5 linked regions of the Homo sapiens genome follow. The protein of the gene in region 2 purifies or fractionates together with the protein of the main gene of each other region. This does not show direct contact. Each region holds a gene or a part of one and is shown on either strand. Other genes may lie near its edges.

Evidence for each region.
Region 1: the proteins of METTL13 (region 2) and ANKMY2 fractionate together in Homo sapiens (co-fractionation; one large-scale study listed by BioGRID). This does not show direct contact.
Region 3: the proteins of METTL13 (region 2) and PIN4 fractionate together in Homo sapiens (co-fractionation; one large-scale study listed by BioGRID). This does not show direct contact.
Region 4: the proteins of METTL13 (region 2) and DNAJC8 fractionate together in Homo sapiens (co-fractionation; one large-scale study listed by BioGRID). This does not show direct contact.
Region 5: the proteins of METTL13 (region 2) and ELMO2 fractionate together in Homo sapiens (co-fractionation; one large-scale study listed by BioGRID). This does not show direct contact.

What each region holds. Positions count from the first base shown.
Region 1 is NC_000007.14:16,621,736-16,625,254, reverse strand, and holds part of ANKMY2 (ankyrin repeat and MYND domain-containing protein 2), read left to right. Parts: intron 1-173; coding exon 174-272; intron 273-3,519. UniProt on the Homo sapiens protein: May be involved in the trafficking of signaling proteins to the cilia.
Region 2 is NC_000001.11:171,784,658-171,788,176, reverse strand, and holds part of METTL13 (eEF1A lysine and N-terminal methyltransferase), read right to left. Parts: intron 2,299-3,519; coding exon 2,099-2,298; intron 443-2,098; coding exon 247-442; intron 1-246. UniProt on the Homo sapiens protein: Dual methyltransferase that catalyzes methylation of elongation factor 1-alpha (EEF1A1 and EEF1A2) at two different positions, and is therefore involved in the regulation of mRNA translation.
Region 3 is NC_000023.11:72,195,247-72,198,765, reverse strand, and holds the end of PIN4 (peptidyl-prolyl cis-trans isomerase NIMA-interacting 4), read right to left. Parts: intron 1,982-3,519; coding exon 1,862-1,981; intron 1,399-1,861; coding exon 1,240-1,398; 3' UTR 426-1,239; downstream 1-425.
Region 4 is NC_000001.11:28,209,018-28,212,536, forward strand, and holds part of DNAJC8 (dnaJ homolog subfamily C member 8), read right to left. Parts: intron 1,621-3,519; coding exon 1,554-1,620; intron 1,050-1,553; coding exon 955-1,049; intron 1-954. UniProt on the Homo sapiens protein: Suppresses polyglutamine (polyQ) aggregation of ATXN3 in neuronal cells.
Region 5 is NC_000020.11:46,368,616-46,372,134, forward strand, and holds part of ELMO2 (engulfment and cell motility protein 2), read right to left. Parts: intron 3,355-3,519; coding exon 3,191-3,354; intron 3,077-3,190; coding exon 2,964-3,076; intron 2,845-2,963; coding exon 2,737-2,844; intron 1,911-2,736; coding exon 1,828-1,910; intron 354-1,827; coding exon 276-353; intron 1-275. UniProt on the Homo sapiens protein: Involved in cytoskeletal rearrangements required for phagocytosis of apoptotic cells and cell motility. Acts in association with DOCK1 and CRK. Was initially proposed to be required in complex with DOCK1 to activate Rac Rho small GTPases.

The sequences.
Region 1 (3,519 bases), on a different chromosome or scaffold from region 2:
ATAGCATTTTATTCTTTACTGTAGTTAGGATTCATGTTTTAAAAGAATGAAAATATCCACATGACAGAAACCTAAAACTAACTGGGGGAATAAAGGGTATAGAGAGTTTAGAAAGGGATGTTTAAATTGTGTCCTCCTTAACATTAACAAATGTGTTCCCTTTAAAACTCTAGGTAATAAAGACATCACATGGGTAATGTTAGAAGCTGGTGCTGAGACAGATGTTGTCAACTCTGTGGGAAGAACAGCAGCTCAGATGGCAGCCTTTGTGGGTGAGATTTTGCTGCAGTTTTGCATTAGATTATACCCAAAATTTCCCTTGTGGAAAAAAAACCCACTTTGCTTCTCATGGTGAAAATATTATCATGTTGCTTTAAAAAAACTTAAGTATTTACAGTCCACTGTAACTTAATGAAACACCTAGTGACTCTGGAGAAAACAAATGGCTATTTCGAATTTCCACTTTTTCAAATACAAAGAGTAGTGGGGCCATTGTAATTGCTCACAAATGCTTATAACATGTATATTTTATGTCTCTGATGGAAGTAGCTAACCCTAATGTTTAAGAATGCTAACCGAGAAGTCAGTAATCCCAAGTTAAATTTTGGCTGTGCCACGTGATAGCAAAGTACTTAATAATTCTGACCTTCAGTTTCCTCATGGTAAAATGTTACAGGGTTATTGTGAGGATTAAAAGAGGTGATAGACTTGAACTTTCCATGTAACACTAAATAAATGGTATTAGTTACTGTTGTTAATAATTATTACAACAATGACATAACTCTTAGGAAAGAGTACTTGATAATAATATACAACTACTTCGTTATCATTCTCATCAACCACAGACGTTTATTTTGTGTGCCCAATAATTCTTGGCATGTTAATCCTATTGCTTGACATAATGTAAGGAAAGAGTGGGAGTGAATTCTTGTTCTTTGGTATTTTGACACCATTGAATTGGTGGTGAAGAGAGTCCACTGAGAGAAAAGCAAAGAGCAACGTCTGATTTATTGGGAGTGCAGTAAGTGGCCGTATAGGGACTAATAATTCATTAAACAAATAATGTTCACAACCTATAAAGCAAGCATCACTGTAGGTGTCTTGGTTATAGTGACAAGACAGGCTGTTCATACTTTCTTGGCACTTAAAGGGTAATAGCAATGACAAATGGTGCGAAAACACATACTCCAAGGTAGAACTTCAGAGCTCCATAAAAATACATAGAAGAGGAGGATCTGTCCAATTCAAGGGGGTTTTGAGAGAAGTCAGGTTCAGATACAGTGTAAATTAGGTGTGGAGGATAGTAACTGAATATTATGTTAAATTTTATTAGAACATTTTCTTGAAACTACTAATAGAAGCTGCCATTGATTAAGCCAGACACTCAGTTGCTTTATGACAGCTTTTTCTGTTAGAAGAAGTATCCTTATTTTCATTTCAAAAGGACTTGAGAAAGGTATGGCCTTGTGTAAGCTTCGGAGAAATATTTTAACTCCCGTGTGTACAGGCCCCAAGTTGCCCCATCTCAGTTCTGAGCTAATTTTGAGGGTGTCACTGCAGGGGGAAAGAACACTAAAGTAGGAATCTGGAGACTTGAACTTTAGTTCATGTGTGCTGATAATTAGTTATAGGATCACGGGCAAATTCCTTTACCTCCATAGGCCTCAGTTTTCTGATCTGTATGCAAAGAAGCAGGGGAATTAGGTGATCTCTGAACTTCTATTTAACTGTACAAGTTTTCATTATATCCACAATGTAACAAAATATTGCTCAGATACAGGTAAAAAAATTTCCCAAGATCACAGGTCTGGAAATGGAGGAGTCTCTTCTTTCAGGCATTAACACAATGCTCCTTTCTTTTTCTTAACACTACAATACTAACAAAATTTTTACTACAGTAAAAATTGTTTGCAATCCTATCCTAAAATAAGAGTAATGTTTTCATTCCATTTTAATATATTTAACTGATTTCACAGACAGAAAATTACATTGCACCCTTCCAGTTGTTACTGTATTTTCCAAATAATTAGCCTTTAAAAAAGCTCATTCTCCCCTTTTTGTTTCCTTCAAGTGGATCAGTATGTATACATGCGTACATACATACATAAGATTTTTGTCATTTTTTAAAAATGCCACCCATCACACAGCAGATATTCCTTGTAGCTTGTTTTCTTCACTTACTAATACATCATGGAAGTTCCTCCCATCTCAGTAGGTGTAATTCATTTCCTTCAACAGCTATATGATACTCCATGATATAGATGTTCCACAGTTCAGTTAGCTCTCCCTTATTGACAGATTTTACAGTTTTTTAACCACTTTTCTACAAATAATGTAATAATCATCCTTGATTTTCTATGTTTTACAAGTTAGTACTTGAATATTTTTTACATGTTAGAACTTTAATATCTCTAAAGTATTTCTTAGAAGTAAAATTGCTGAGACAAAGGATATAGAGTTTTTATTTTTATTTATTTATTTATTTATTTATTTATTTATTTATTCATTTATTTTTGAGATGGAGTCTCGCCCTGTCGCCCAGGCTGGAGTGCAGTGGCCCAACCTCAGCTCATTGCAACCTCCGCCTCCCGGGTTCAAGTGATTCTCCTGCCTCAGCCTCCCAACTAGCTGGGATTATAGGTGTGCGCCACCACGCCTAGCTAATTTTTTTTGTATTTTTAGTAGAGATGGGGTTTCACCATGTTGGTCAGGCTGGTCTTGAACTCCTGACCTTGTGATCTGCCCGCCTCGGCCTCCCAAAGTGCTGGGATTACAGCCACCACGACCAGCCTAGAGTTTTAATTTTAATGTAAGTCTAGATTCCTTTCCAAAAGGGCATAGTAATTCACAGTAATATCCTCATCAGAGCTGAGTATTACCATTCTTTGATTTTTGCCACTCTGATAGTTAAAAAGATGGTACATTGTGAACTTACTTTCCCCTCATTATTTATGAAATTAAGCACTTCTGTTGTTGGTAATTTGTATTTTCACTTTTGTGGATTACCCACTTATACTCTTTATTCATTTTTTTGTGGGGGGATGCCCTTTGTTATTGCTTTGAGGAGCTTTATGCATACAAATCCATTATCTAACAAATGTGTTTCAAATATTTTATGCCAGTCCTCCTCTTCCTCCTCCTCCTCCTTCTTCTTCTTCTTTTTATTCCTCTTCTTCCTCCTCCTCTTCCTCTTCTTCTTCTTCCTTCTTTCTTCTTCTTCTTTTTTAACTTTATGGAGACCTTTACCATAGGAAATTTATTTATTTATTTATTTATTTATTTTTTTGAGATGGAGTCTCACTCTGTCACCCAGGCTGGAGTGCAGTGGCATAATCTCGGCTCACTGCAACCTCCACCTCCTGGGTTCAAACGATTCTCCTGCCTCAGCCTCCCATGTAGCTGGGACTACAGGTATGTGCCACCACACCCAGCTAATTGTTGTATTTTTAGTAGAGATGGGGCTTAGCCATGTTGGCCAGGCTGGTCTCGAACTCTTGACCTTAGGTGATCGTCCCACCT
Region 2 (3,519 bases):
TAAACCGAAGACATTAATGTGATTATCACTGTATTTGGTTTCACTACTCACGTCCCCTATCACTTCAGAGCCAGGCTCTGCTCAAGAACAGAATGTACTCTGCTTATAGCTATTCACACCCTAAGAGTCCAGATGGTTAAGAACCTACAGACACCCAGGTCCATCCTACATCTCGGCCAAGCTCCCAAGAAATCTAGTCCATGCCACGGCCACTTGGGTCCCACCACTGTGCCTATGACACCTCACCTTTGTGAGACACATCCTTCAGCAACCTGGCTTCGGACTGCACCACATTCCTGTTGCTGAGGAAGATCAGTCGACGGAAGTATCGCTTGTCATCCCCTTGCACATCCTCAATGACATAGTCACCGCTCAAGGGGCTGCAGTCTTGGTGCTGAACGGTCCGGACCCCAATGTCCCCACCCACAGACAGAAAGGGGACCTGAAGGTACAACCAGAGATGTGGTCAAAACAGCAGCTCATTTAAGAAATAAGAGAAATTATAACCCCTTCCCTTTTGTGTGTATATATCCCCATACCACGGTTCTAGACAACAACTACTCCACAGATTTGCCATTCTATTAAAGTACTTTTCTGGAGCCTTTGAACTGATCTCAAAGGTTTAATTCATCTTTTGAAAATCAACTGGACACATAAAGATCTCCCAAACAACTAGTGAGATGCAGCTGATTCTCCCCAAGTTCTTTTAGGGGTTTTTCTCATCAGTAACCCCTAAAAGAACTCTCAATAGTCCAGGATAACAAAAGCTAGAGGGAACCCTCAGGAAGGGGCTGTGATTATGAGAAGGAATCTACACAAGAATAAAGATAACAAAATCCATGGGAGAAACAACCACTCCAAATCTAGAGAGATATTCCTTTCCCCTGATTATTCTCATCTATTTTTCCCCCACTTTTCTGAACCTTAGGAGAAAAATATACTTTCCCCCTAAACTTTCCCACTCCTTCCCCCTATCTTTATTTCTTTTTTTAAAGACCTATAAGACTAGTTAATAATCACCAATATCTCCTGACCCTGCAGACTCAGGCACTGGTGAGAGGCCACAAATGAAGCTCCTCAGAGGATCTGGGCTTCCTTGAAATAGGGGTCATCAACCCCAAAGTTGGCCAGGAAGAATCAAACTTACATTCATCTGTAAACACGAGTCAGCCTAGTGGGCAAAACCACAGGCCAGGAACCCAGGAGCCTGGGTTCTTTTTTTTCAGATCTGTTACTATTTGCACCAAGCCTCTAGATACCTTTGCTTTCCCACCTATCAAGAAGGATCAAAGCTTGGGCAACATAGGGAGACCCTGTCTCTACAAAAAATGTAAAAAAAAAACTAGCCAGGTATGGTGGCTTGCACCTATAGTCCCAGCTACTACCAAAGGCTGAGGTGGGAGGATGGTTTGAACCCAGGAGGTTGAGGCTGAGGCTGCAGTGAGCCGTGATCACACCACTGAACTCCAGTCCAGCCTGGGCAACAGAGCAAGACCCTATCTCAAAAAAGAAAAAAAAGGATCAACTCCTCATCATGAAGTTCTTTTAGTAAAATCACTTGTTCGTTACCCATGGTGACCAGGATAGCACAAGACAGTTGGTGTTAACTGATAATACCATATCACCACTTAGGCAAAAACCTTCGGTTTCCTTCCCAGTAAAACACCTGACCAGCAATGTGAATACCTGGATAACTGTGCTGAGCTGTTTTGGCCCTCTTCCATTTATACCCTCAGATAATGATAGTTCTAAGAAGCAAAATGACCAAGAAAGTCCAGTGTGGAAGGAGAAATCCACAGTCAGAGCAACTCAAATTAGGAAGAACTGAAGCCCGCAATGAGTAGAGCATTTCCATCCTGCCATGTCTATGGACTCTGAGAGGCTCCCCCAGACACAGACGCTACTGTGCTCACTTTCCTCTCATTGCCTGGGGCAAAGGACAGTTTCCCTGCCATTTAACCCTTAGCTGCTGATACCCCTCCAGGATTAGATGAAGAGTCACAGACTCTAGTCCTAGCTCCTGCCAAGGCTCCCTCTGCCTCCCTGGCTGCTAACATGACTTCAGAGACCCATGAAAGCCGTACGAAAGCTTTGTTACCTGCTGCTGGGTGGGCATCCCAGCTGGGGCCAGCTCCATGACTCTAGCCGACAGCTCAGCTTGGATGTGGTCCATGCTTTCATACTGCTGACCTCGGTGAAGGGCCACTGTAATCAACCTCCTGAAGCCAGCACTGGCCGCCAGCTGTTTCCGGCCCTCATCCATGCCAAAGAGCCACTCGGTCTCCCGGCCCTGAGGGACTAGAAAAAAGAACTTGGTTACAGGGAGTCCTGGAAAGTGATCAAGCCCACAACCAATATGGCCCAAACGGCAGGGAGCCAGTCCCTGTCCAAGACCAGCATCTTCCCCAACTGTGACCCACTGAGGAGCTAACAATTCTCTAGTTCACAACATCTAGGGCAAAGCAGCCCATCAGACATAAGGCAGGACCAAGGGTGGAGAAGAAGTGTGGGCATGTCCGTAGGGGAAGGAGGCAGACACCTACCACAAGAAAAACAGCAGTAATGCCAACACAAATAAGCCATGCCAGGCATGACTCCAAGCTGTTGACAAATATATATTAATGGAATCCTCCAACAGTCCAAGATGCAGGTAGTAGTATTATTCCCATTTTTACATATGAGGAAACTGAGAAACAGAAGTTACACTATTTGCCCAACTTCGCACAATAAGTAAATGGTGAAGCTGGGACTCAAACCCAGGCAGTCTAGCCCCAGACTCTACCCACGCTTGTATTCACTGCACTATTTATTTCCACACATGGACAGACAGAATTATAGAATACTTGAAAAACTAGCTCAGTCACCAGGAAACAAATTACCGTAACACCAAGACCATAAACACTTTGCATTTGTCTACAATGTTCCACTTTTGAAAGCACTTCCTCCTACTATCTTTTTTATCCTTATTAAGATAAATCTGATATAACTTACTGCTTTCAGTAATAATGGCTAACATTTACACAGCACTTCCAAGGCCAGGTACCATTTCTAAGAGCTTTTATACTTCTCACAACTACACCAGAGTTACAATCCCATCAAGGCAGAGAAAGAAAAGTAACCTGTCTAATGTCACACCATCAGGAAATGACTGAGCCAAAACTGAAACCCAAACAGTCTGGTTCCAGAGCTCACTTTTTTAGCTGCTACCCTATGCTGCCTCTCCAAATTTTGCAGAGAAGCACAGCAACTTCCCCAGGTCCTGCAGCTCACAGGCTACAGCTGGGACTAGAACCTATGTCTTAGACTTGCTAGTCCAGCATTACTTCCATTACTCCATGCTACAAAGTAACTAGCATCTCTATATCATATGTGACCTCCTAAATTTATCTCTATTCTCTCTCTTCCCTACCAACCCCATTCTCACACTTCATCAAGCCTTTGCAATGGCAGATGAAAAGGAATAGGTCTCAACTCCAAGTAGGTTGCTAGAGAGCTATTACTCTCCTTTCATCATGCCTT
Region 3 (3,519 bases), on a different chromosome or scaffold from region 2:
CCACCTTGGCCTCCTAAAATGCTGGGATGATAGGCCTGAGCCACTGTGCCCAGATGAGGTCACTGTATTGATGCTGAACTTAGTGCTGACACCCGATTGGCATAGGACACTACAGCCCAGAACTCCTGGGCTCAAGTGATCCTCCTGCCTCAGCCTCCCAAGTAGCTAAGACTACAGGCGCACACCACTGGGCCCAGCCATAGTTTCATCTTATATCTATTTGAACTTCTCTGTATACACTGGCATATCTGCTCCGTGGGGAAAATCTCATGGAGGCATAACCTACTGAGGTGCTCAGAAACTCTTCTCAAGTGGGAAAGTCAGGTATCTAGGTAAAGTTCCCATTATATAAGTGGGTATAATATCAAATGCAGCTGAGGGAGAGAAGGCAGTGTGTTAAAATAATCTGTTAAGAATCACATAGCTGTGTTGGCAAAGTTTTATTTTTGAAGCAGTATAGTATTTATATTAGTAATCTTTATACTTTTTTATATGTCATAAATATGGCATTTTAAATTTTAAAAATTTAGATGCACAGAACATTGGCCCTGGAAAGGACAGTCTTAATGTAACCCATACACTGAAGATGAGGGAATGACATTTTTATGCTGACATCCCTCCCTTTAACCAGCACTCGGTTAGTCTAGTACAAAACAACTCATGGAACAACTGAGTGCTTTTTTCCTCCAATAAACATTTATTTAAAAAGAAAGGAGTTAACACTGAAAGGCATAACGTGCCACGTACTATGTTAAGACAGTGGAGCTAATACCACCTGTCCTGGAAGATCAGAGTTGACTAACATGTAAAACAAATGTTGTCTAGGAACTTATTTTATGATTCTCACACACTAATCTATTTGATGCCCAATATTTTCAGTTGTGTGAATAGTGTGAGTTGATATCTGCTTCCCCTGAAGATGGTTTCTGAATTAATTTATGGGACAGACTGAGAGTCAGATATAGTTCTGGGAGGAAAGAGAATACAGGTTAAAGGGAGTCTGCTTGACTTCTCTTTGAGAAAGACTGACTGAATACCTACTACAGTTGACATTCACTTAGCCCCACCCTCTCTTACACCTACAAACCCATACTTAGAGCTTTCACAGAATACAAGGAGCATCCAATATCTTTTCTTTTTAAAAATTTTTGTATTTCCTTGCAGCTCCAGCTCAAAAGAATATGTAATACCTTTTAAAGAAACAAAATGTATAAAACTTATTCAGTCTTTCATATGATTTTATTTTCTTCCTTCGACCATAATAATATGATATCCAAATTTTGTCTTAACCGGTGGGTCTGTAAACACAGGCTTATCCATCCCACTTACAGGCAAGGCAAATGCTGCTTCTTGAAATGGTCCCACCATGGACCCTCTGGTCATCCAACCCAAGTCACCCTGAAAAACCCAAAAGATAAGTGATATCAAGTGGCCCAGAAGAGGGAACAGTTCTACTGTAGCTTGAGAGAATTTCCCAACATTTTGCTAAGGTTACGAGGTATATTCCTAAGAGCAATACAGGAATAGGCTCAATAAGGACAAATAGGTAGAAGAAGTCTAACTAGACTGAACACATAAGTACTCTCAACACTGCTGGACTTTGAAGTTAGCCGTGCAAGTTTGGTCATGCATAGGTTTTGACATAGATGACCCTTATTCTACTATTTACAAGTTGGACATTTCTGCTTTTGAGATCTTTAAACCAAAATATCGCTACAACCAATGGTTGAACAAAGGAATGATCCCTACTTCTGTGTTTCTTCTGTGGAGGATGGAGAATTTTTATCTTATTTTATTATTTGTCATTTTTACTTTGCTTTCTTACCTTGAGAGAAAATTATAAATAATAAGAGCAACATACCCCTTGCCTGGCTTTATCTTCACTATACTGTGCGGCCACTTCATTGAATCTCATCCCAGACTTTAACTTTTCCATGGCTTCCATGATTTTGCCATGTTTTTCACATAGAATGTGTCTGACCTGCAAGGAAAAAGTACATTCATGTAATACTTGGAGACCCAAATGACTCCTTAAAGTACAGTGGTTACATTTGGATTACCCCCACCAGTTAAAAAAAAAACACATTAGTTCATAGCAAGTAAAAATCCTGGAAGTTTGCCCAGGACAACAACCACAATCCCATTCCCCATATTAAGACAATGTCTCAGAGTCCTGATTTAGATGGAAAATAGGCACCTGGCTGTGGGAAGCTCCGCCTTTTTTTTTTTTTTGAGAAGGAGTCTTGCTCTGTCACCTAGGCTGAAGTGCAGTGGTGTGATCTCGGCTCACTGCAACCTCTGCCTCCCGGGTTCAAGCAATTCTCCTGTCTCAGCCTCCTGAATAGCTGGGTTTACAGCTATGTGCCATCACACCTGGCTAATTTTTGTATTTTTAGTAGAGATGGGGTTTCTCCATGTTGGCCAGGCTGGTCTTGAACTCCTGACCTCGTGATCCACCCGCCTTGGCCTCCCAAAGTGCTGGGATTACAGGCGTGAGCCGCCGCTCACGGCCGGGAAGCTCCCATCTTTTACCATATACCTTCATGCTAACAGGAGGAGGAAACACGATACGGGTTGAGAGCTGTGGTCCTAGAATCAAATCCCAACTCTGCTGTATGAACTTAGGCTTTATTTATTTATTTATTTAGAGACGGAGTCTCACTCTGTCTCCCAGGCTGGAGTGCAGTGGTGTGCTCTCAGCTCACTGCAACCTCTGCCTCCCGGGTTCAAGCAATTCTCTTGCCTTAGCCTCCCGAGTAGCTGGGATTACAGGCACCCATTACCACGCCCAGCTAATTTTTGTATTTTTAGTAGAGATGGTGTTTCACCACGTTGGCCAGGCCGGTCTTGAACCCCTGACCTCAAGTGATCTGCCCGCCTCGGCCTCCCAAAGTGCTAGGATTACAGGCGTCAGCCACCATGCCTGGCTGAACTTACGCATGTTTTTAAACCTCCAAGTGTTTCTCCATTTGTACATCAAGATGCAATGATAACGGGACCTATGTGTTCTCATAGGATTGTGAAGATTGAGATAATGCAGCTACCATTGACCAACGGCTAGCTATTATTTCATCAGAGTGAGGATAAGAAAAAACCTGCTAGAAAGTATTTCTATCTTTTTTTTTGAGACAGAGTCTCCGTCTGTTGCCCAGGCTGGAGTGCAGTGGCCCGATCTTGGCTCACTGCAACCTCCACCCACGGGTTCAAGCAATTCTCCTGCCTCAGCCTCCCAAGTAGCTGGGACTATAGGTGCGCACCACCACGCCCAGCTAACTTTTTGTATTTTTAGTAGAGATGGGTTTCACTGTGTTGGCCAGGCTGGTCTCAAATTCCTGGCCTAAAGTGATCTGCCCACCTCAGCTCCCAAAGTGCTGGGATTACAGGTGTCAGCACACCGTGCCTGGCCAGGAAGTATTTCTTACTAAAAGAGACCCAATGTATAAGCCTCCCCACAATTCCACACTTTGAAAAGGTATCATAGGTTGAATATTAAGAACGCCCAACCCTACTGAAGTATTC
Region 4 (3,519 bases), about 140 Mb from region 2:
AGTACCCTCTAAGCTCAGAAAGGCCCTACTGCCACCCTGTGGTCAGGAAGCCTAAGGATGACTTTCTTACAGGTGAAAGACATACGAAGCCACAATGATTTAAGGAGAAACTGTCAGGCACTTTCCCTATTTCTACCAGGATAGGGCCTACAAGTGCCATTTCCAACACATGACCCGCAGGATATAGTTATGGGCCCTTTGTCTCCTCTTCTTATCCATTTTCCTCACCGAAACTGGATTCATTATTATGGTTATAAAGTTGTCTCAGATTTCAAAGCTCTTCATGTGAAAAGTCATCCAATCACAATTGAAGCAGCTCTTACAAATGACCTCAAGATTCTTGCCCCAGCAAGTAAAAAGTTAAAAGACCTTTCTTACCTTGGGAAAGCCATACTGACATTTCCCACCACATTGGAGACTTATGTATGCCCTCAAGAGCAAACAAAAATAACACCAGCTACAACTCAGTTTCCTTCAACTGAGTTCTTCCCAACTCTGTTATTAAGATGGACATAAACCTCCTCCTATTTTAAAAAAAGTTTACGCCTATCCTCTTGCTAGCCTTTGCCAAGCCTTGTTGCAAACCCTTCACAGGGACAAGAATAAAAATCAAGAGTCAAGAGTCACAGGCTGCTCCACGTTTCCACTCTAAGAATGGGGTAAGTGGCAATATGTGATGAGAGGGAGAGAACAACCCTTTCTCCCCAACACAGGACTGGTAGGGAAAGAGGTAGGAGCAGTGTACCAGCTACTCCTCATCTGAGTTCTTCTCTTAGGGGTGAATTACAGCTTCAGGCACACACTATTCATGACCACCACAGCAAAGTGGTAGAGAGCACAGAAGTAGCCACAGGTTGTGCCAGTAGGCATTACTATGTTCATATGTACCCTTCTACAAGGTGCCCAAGGCTTGCTGATACTTCCTGTAAACACAGCAGCACTATAAATACTTACAGTGTGTTCCACGTATTCTTTTCCTGCCTGAATTACATCCAGGGCCCTCTTCTTTTGCTCCTGATCCAGTAGCAACTTGTAAGCTTTGTCCACAGCTAATGCAAAACATTGAAATTAACTGTTTCTGCAAACACCCTCTGAAAGTCTGAACTATACTCAGGCAGTGTAAATGGACTTGTGCTCTCTAAAGCATTCCCTACTTTAATTATTTACTGTCGTTAAACTAAGTTAAAAAAAACATTCAACTATAGCAATGACTTTCCTTAAGAGCCTTGGAAAAAATTAAATATATACTCAAGGCTAAATACACTACATCTGGATTTAATTCAGTGATAAAATTCTTTATGTTCAAAGAAAAAAAATGATCCTATGCAATAACAGTCTTTGTTGGCATATAAAAGTTTTAACAAAGCAAAGTTAAGGTCTACTTCTTAAACAACAACATTCTGCTTTGAAATGGCAACTGCTCTACTGAAAACCACAGCTTCTTGGTGACCAGAAGACAAAACTATAACAGTCTTTGCTTGATCTAGGACAAGGAACAGTTAGGCCCTGCCATTCACAATCTAATACTCAGAAGCAGGTAAATTTACAAATACCTTCAAAAGCCTTTTGTGCTCTGTCAGCATCATCTTGATTTTTGTCAGGATGCACCAAGATGGATAACTACAATAAGAGAAAAGTTGGGGTTGTCAATAAGGGAAACATTTACTAACTTCCAGCCTGCCCTGTCTCGTTACAACCAAAAGCTCTAAGGTCCTACGGCAAAAAGAGACTCTTAGCAAAAGCATTTAAAAAATTAACAAATCTCTTTAAATGCCCAGAAATACTGATCTTTAACAAAATTCAAGCACCAAAAGGTAAAGGTACAACTAGGAAACATTTCAGGTTTTAATCACAAAGTTGAGACCAAACATGCCAGGCACAGAGGCTCACGCCTGTCATCCCACCACTTTGGGAGGCTGAGGTGAGAGGATTACTTAAGCCCAGGACTTCGAGACCAGCCTGAGCAACATAGCAAGACCCTGTCTCTACAAAAAAAAAATTTTTTAATTACCCAGACATGGTGGTGGTCGCCTGTAGTCCAAGCTATTTAGGAAGCTAACGTGGGAGAATCACTTGAGCCTGGGAGGTTGAGATTGTGCCACTGCACTCCAGCCTGGGCAACAAAGTGAGACCCTGTCTCCAGGAAAAAACAAAAACAAAAACAAAAACAAAAACAAATGGAAGCCTAGCACTATGAAGATGTTGTAATAATTTGGGGGAGGAGGGAGACTGAAAGGTATCAAGTTCCTATTATGTTCCTTATGCAGGTTGAGCACCCAAAATCCAAAAGGCTCCAAAATCTGAAACTTTCTGAGTGCTAACATGATGCTCAAAGGAAACGCTCATTGGAACATTTTGAATTTTCGGATTAGGGATGCTCGACCATTATGCATTCTGCAAATATTCCAAAATCTGAAAAAATCTGAAATCTGAAATACTTCTAGTCTCAAGCATTTCAGATAAGGGATACTCAACCTGTACTAAGCACTAAGGTGGCTAAAGCAGGTATGAGACATCAACTCTCTCCTAAAAGAACTCCTAATCTAAAGCAGTTTCTCATTCTGCCTGTGCTCCAACCCTGTGAAGCTTCTGAAAAAGACAACATTCTAATTTCCACCCTCAGACCTTCTGAGTTAGTCTTTGGCATCTGCACTTTGTAAACCTCTACTAGACTGGGTTTCAGATGATCGTAGGGAATTAGCCCTTATTTTGTTAGGTGGGATAAGTGATTATGCAAGAAAATGTCCTTTTTTTGGGAAGGGTACAAGCTGAAGTATTTAGGGGTAAAGCATCATGGTTTATTGCAATTTACAATGATTCAGCCAAAAATATATAGTTAAATATATAGTCAGTGTCTGCCAGGAGCAGTGGCTCCCGCCTGTAATCCCAGCACTTTGGAAGGCTGAGGCTGGCAGATCACTTGAGGTCAGGAGTTCGAGACCAGCCTGGCCTACATGGTGAAACCCCGTCTCTACTAAAAATACAAAAATTTGGCAGGCACAGTGGCACACATCTATAATACCAGCTACTCAGGACGCTGAGGCAAGAGAATCACTTGAACTCAGGAGGTGGAGGCTGCCGTGAGCCAAGATCGCAACACTGTACTGCAACCTGGGTGACAGAGCCGGACTCCGTCTCAATAAATAAATAAATATATATATATATATATATATATATATATATATATATATATATATAAATGAAATTAACTATTCAATATAGATGGTGGATACATGAATATTCGTTGTTCTATTCTTTTTTTTTTTTTTTTTTTTGAGACAGAGTGTTGCTCTATCATCCAGGCTGGAGTGCAATGGTGCTATCCCAGCTCACTGCAGCCTCAATCTCCTGGACTCAAGTGATCCTCCCACCTCAGCCTTCTGAGTAGCTGGGACTACAGGCACGGCTAATTTTTGGCTTTTGCTGTTGTTGTTTTTCGTTTTTTGTAGAGACGGGGTTTCACCATGTTGCCCAGGCTGGTCACGAACTCCTGAGCTCAAGCAATCTGCCCGACTCAAT
Region 5 (3,519 bases), on a different chromosome or scaffold from region 2:
ATCCTTGGCAGCCACCCAATGCGCCTGGAGGAACCTCAGGTCCAGCATTATGTAATGATACCTGCTGCTTCATCTGGGTGCCCCCCCAACCACAGCTCCTCCTTTGAGACATTCCCATCCTATTGAAATGCCACCTTCTTCTCAAAGCCTTCCTAGGCTTCAATATACACTGCAGCCACCCACCACAGGGGACTTTCCTGTTTTGCTCATTCCTGCCACCAACTGAAGAGTTACAGAAATAGCTCTGTTGTCTAAGGCAGCGCCACACTGCTCACCTCATATTTATTAGGTGCGATGAAGTTTAAGGTCTCATCAGGGTCATACAGGATGGAGAAGGCCAATTCCAACACCTCCTGAAGGAGAAAGGGTTTAAATTAGAGCGATGGAACAGCCTGGGGTCTGCACATCAAGATCTTGGCCAAAGTCCTAGTGACTCGGCATCATCACCAAACATGCTGATTCAGATGAATGTCATCAATGCTCCTAGGCGGCCACAAGTGTGGCTGGAGATGAGGCCCAGCATAAATCAACCTTAACTTACCCACTCCCTGCCCAAGTCACATCAAAGATGTTGTGATATTTTTAAGATTGGAAAAAAGTCATTTTCAACACTCAGAACCCTGGAAGGTCACGATCCATGACTGTAAGTTATCCTAAAAGTTTTTATATTACCAAGATGACTAACAACTTCTATCGTGCTGTATTTGGCATAGGAATGTCTTAACAATTAAAAAACAAAACAAAACACACACACACACAAAATTGGTCACTGTTGCATGATACCAAGGAACTAACTCATTATTTTGAAAGTAAGTACATAAAAGAAGAATCAGCATTTATTCTCGTTTCCTATATAAACTGTACCACTGGGAAACCAATAGTAGATAAGGGCAAGTTTCATGGTTCAGCTCATAAATGAAAAGCAATGACTGCATCAAAATATCATGAGTTTGCAAACCTTAGTTGACTGATGGAATGAGGCACTGAGCTTCAACAGTCTGCTAATTATCACAAAAGGAGAGACCACCAGACGTTATGTGCCTCTTGATAGAACATAATACCACTGATGACACTGGCCAGGAAAAAAGTTAAACCTGAACTGGATCAAACCTCTAGATCCCTCTTCCAATGTACAGATCTGGGACAGAGGAACAAGTTAAACTGTACCACGGGGAAACAATCAGCAAAATTCAGATGCTAGGAAACTACCAAACAAGCAATCTGGTTCTTCAGCTAATAAACTGCAAAGGAAAAGATGGTGGGGGATGGGGGGGCGGGGGAACTTATGAATTAAGAAACTTAAAAGACCAGTCTTAGACTCTGGTTTAGACAAGATGGGTATGGGGGTGTGTGTGTGTGTGTGTGTGTGTGTGTGTGTGTGTGTGTGTGTATCCATATAAACATTTATATATCTGTAGAGAAATTATGACATTTATAAGACAATTGGTAGAAAGTCACCATCAGTGGAATATTTGATCTGAAATAACTACTTTCATTTCCTGTTATGTGTGCTAATGGACTGGTGGCAATGTTATACACTATACGATGTACACTAAATATTTACAGATGAAACAGTGTGATACTTGGGACTTTCTTCAAAGCGATAAAGGAGAGAAACAAGTGGATGGGCAGAACTGGCCATGGTTGCTGAGTCTGGGTGATGTGTATACAGAGGTTCCATCTATTTTTGTGTATGTTCAAAATTCTTAATAAAACATTCAGGAATAGAGAGGGGAAGATGCCAAGAATGCACCTGGAAAAAACCACCACCAATGGCACTCTCCAAGTATCACTGGGCCAGCTACTCAAACTGGCCTCTCTACTCACCTTGTTCTGTTTCAGAGCACTTTTCTCTTTCATGTGGGGACAATCTTTCCCAGTGACAATGGCCTTAATGTCTGCAACAGGAACTGATAAATGATGGGAATTAGTCTCTGGAAGTTCATGCTGCAAGCTGGTCAGTGCCTACATCAGTGCTGGAAGGGAGGTACTGGGGCAGATGCATAGGAAGCCTCAGCCCCAAACTCCAAGGGCTGCTGTATGAGCTCAGTGAGGGTGGTGGGGAGGATGGCCTTGTACTGTTCCCTCCGTCTTGGTCACTCCTGTAGACCACAGCCCAGTGAGGCTGTGTCAAAGCTAACTGAGGGTCACTTCAGGGCTCTTGGATTTATATCCCCAAGGAACGGGACCTTGGTGACTCCCTTCCCCTCTCCTTCACAATAATGGCGATGATGATGCCATCATCGCCAACAGCAGTGGCAGCTGCTAACAGTTATGCTGACTACCTGCCAACCACTCTTCTAAGTGCTTTGCATACATTACTCATGCAATCCTCTTAGGAGGAAAGTGTGGCTATTATTCCCACTTTACAGGAGAAGAAACCAAGGCAGAGGGGAGAACTTGCAATTAATTAGAATTCAAGTTAATTAGGAGCAAAGCCAGGATTTGAATGTGGGCAGTCTGGCTTCACAGCTTCTCCTCTTAACTACTGCCTTTCGACTTAGTCATGTACCACCCTTTACAGTCTACACAATACATTCACACCTGTGAACTCATTGTTTCTCCAAACCACCCCACCGAGTAGGCCAGGTAGAGGAAATCGCTGACAGATAAGGAAACAGGTCCAGAGAGGTAACAGGTACAAGCCCAGATGATCAGCTACAAACAGCTGGACTAGAACTCCTGTCTCCTGACAAGTCCAGCAACCATGACACATCAACAGAGAAATGAACCTACTTTTCTCCTGCAGGGATTCAAATGTCACCTCCCCTTGTGGGTTGTCATCCAAGTCACCATAGTGAAGGACCTTGTGGTTCAGTGCCAACCGGCAGTACCAGAACCGTTCTGGAACACAAGGGAAGCCAAACAGGTGAGCAACGACAGTACTGGGAAAGGCCTGGGCACAAAAGGGGCCATCCAGGCAGGCTCTTCCCGGCACCAAGGATTGCCCCGTCTCCTCTCACCTTGCCTTCGGCGGTTCCCAATCTTTCGGAAGCTGCTGCCCTCACAGAGCCGGTTCAGGCGCTGCTGCTTGATCAGCTCAAGGATCTCGGGCTGGATCTTCTCCCTCAGCTCCCTGGGGTGGACACACACTGGAGTGAGCGGAAGGTCATGGGGACAGTGGAGCTCTGGAAGGAAAGCAGAGCTGGCAGCCACCTCCCCCGCCAGCCTCCCCTGAGATGGAACTTACACAATTGGCGGGGACTGGAAGTCATCCTGACTCATCCTCTCAGACTGGCGCAGTCGTAGAATCTCAGAGTAACTCAGGCTACGCAATTTGCTCTTGAACTGATCCAAAGAGTTGGGTTTGGAGGGCAAAGCTCGAGTGATTTGCTCTCGGACGACTTGCATAACCTAAGAGGAGAAGAACCCAGCCAACTCACACCACTACTCTTGAGAAATGGACAGGCCTATTATGGAGCACCAAGGCTCTTTCCTGCCCCAGGGTCTTGAGCAGGGCAGGCACTACAGACATCTGCTGGGTGAGTAAGGTATACCTTCTTAGATGGTTATTCAGGT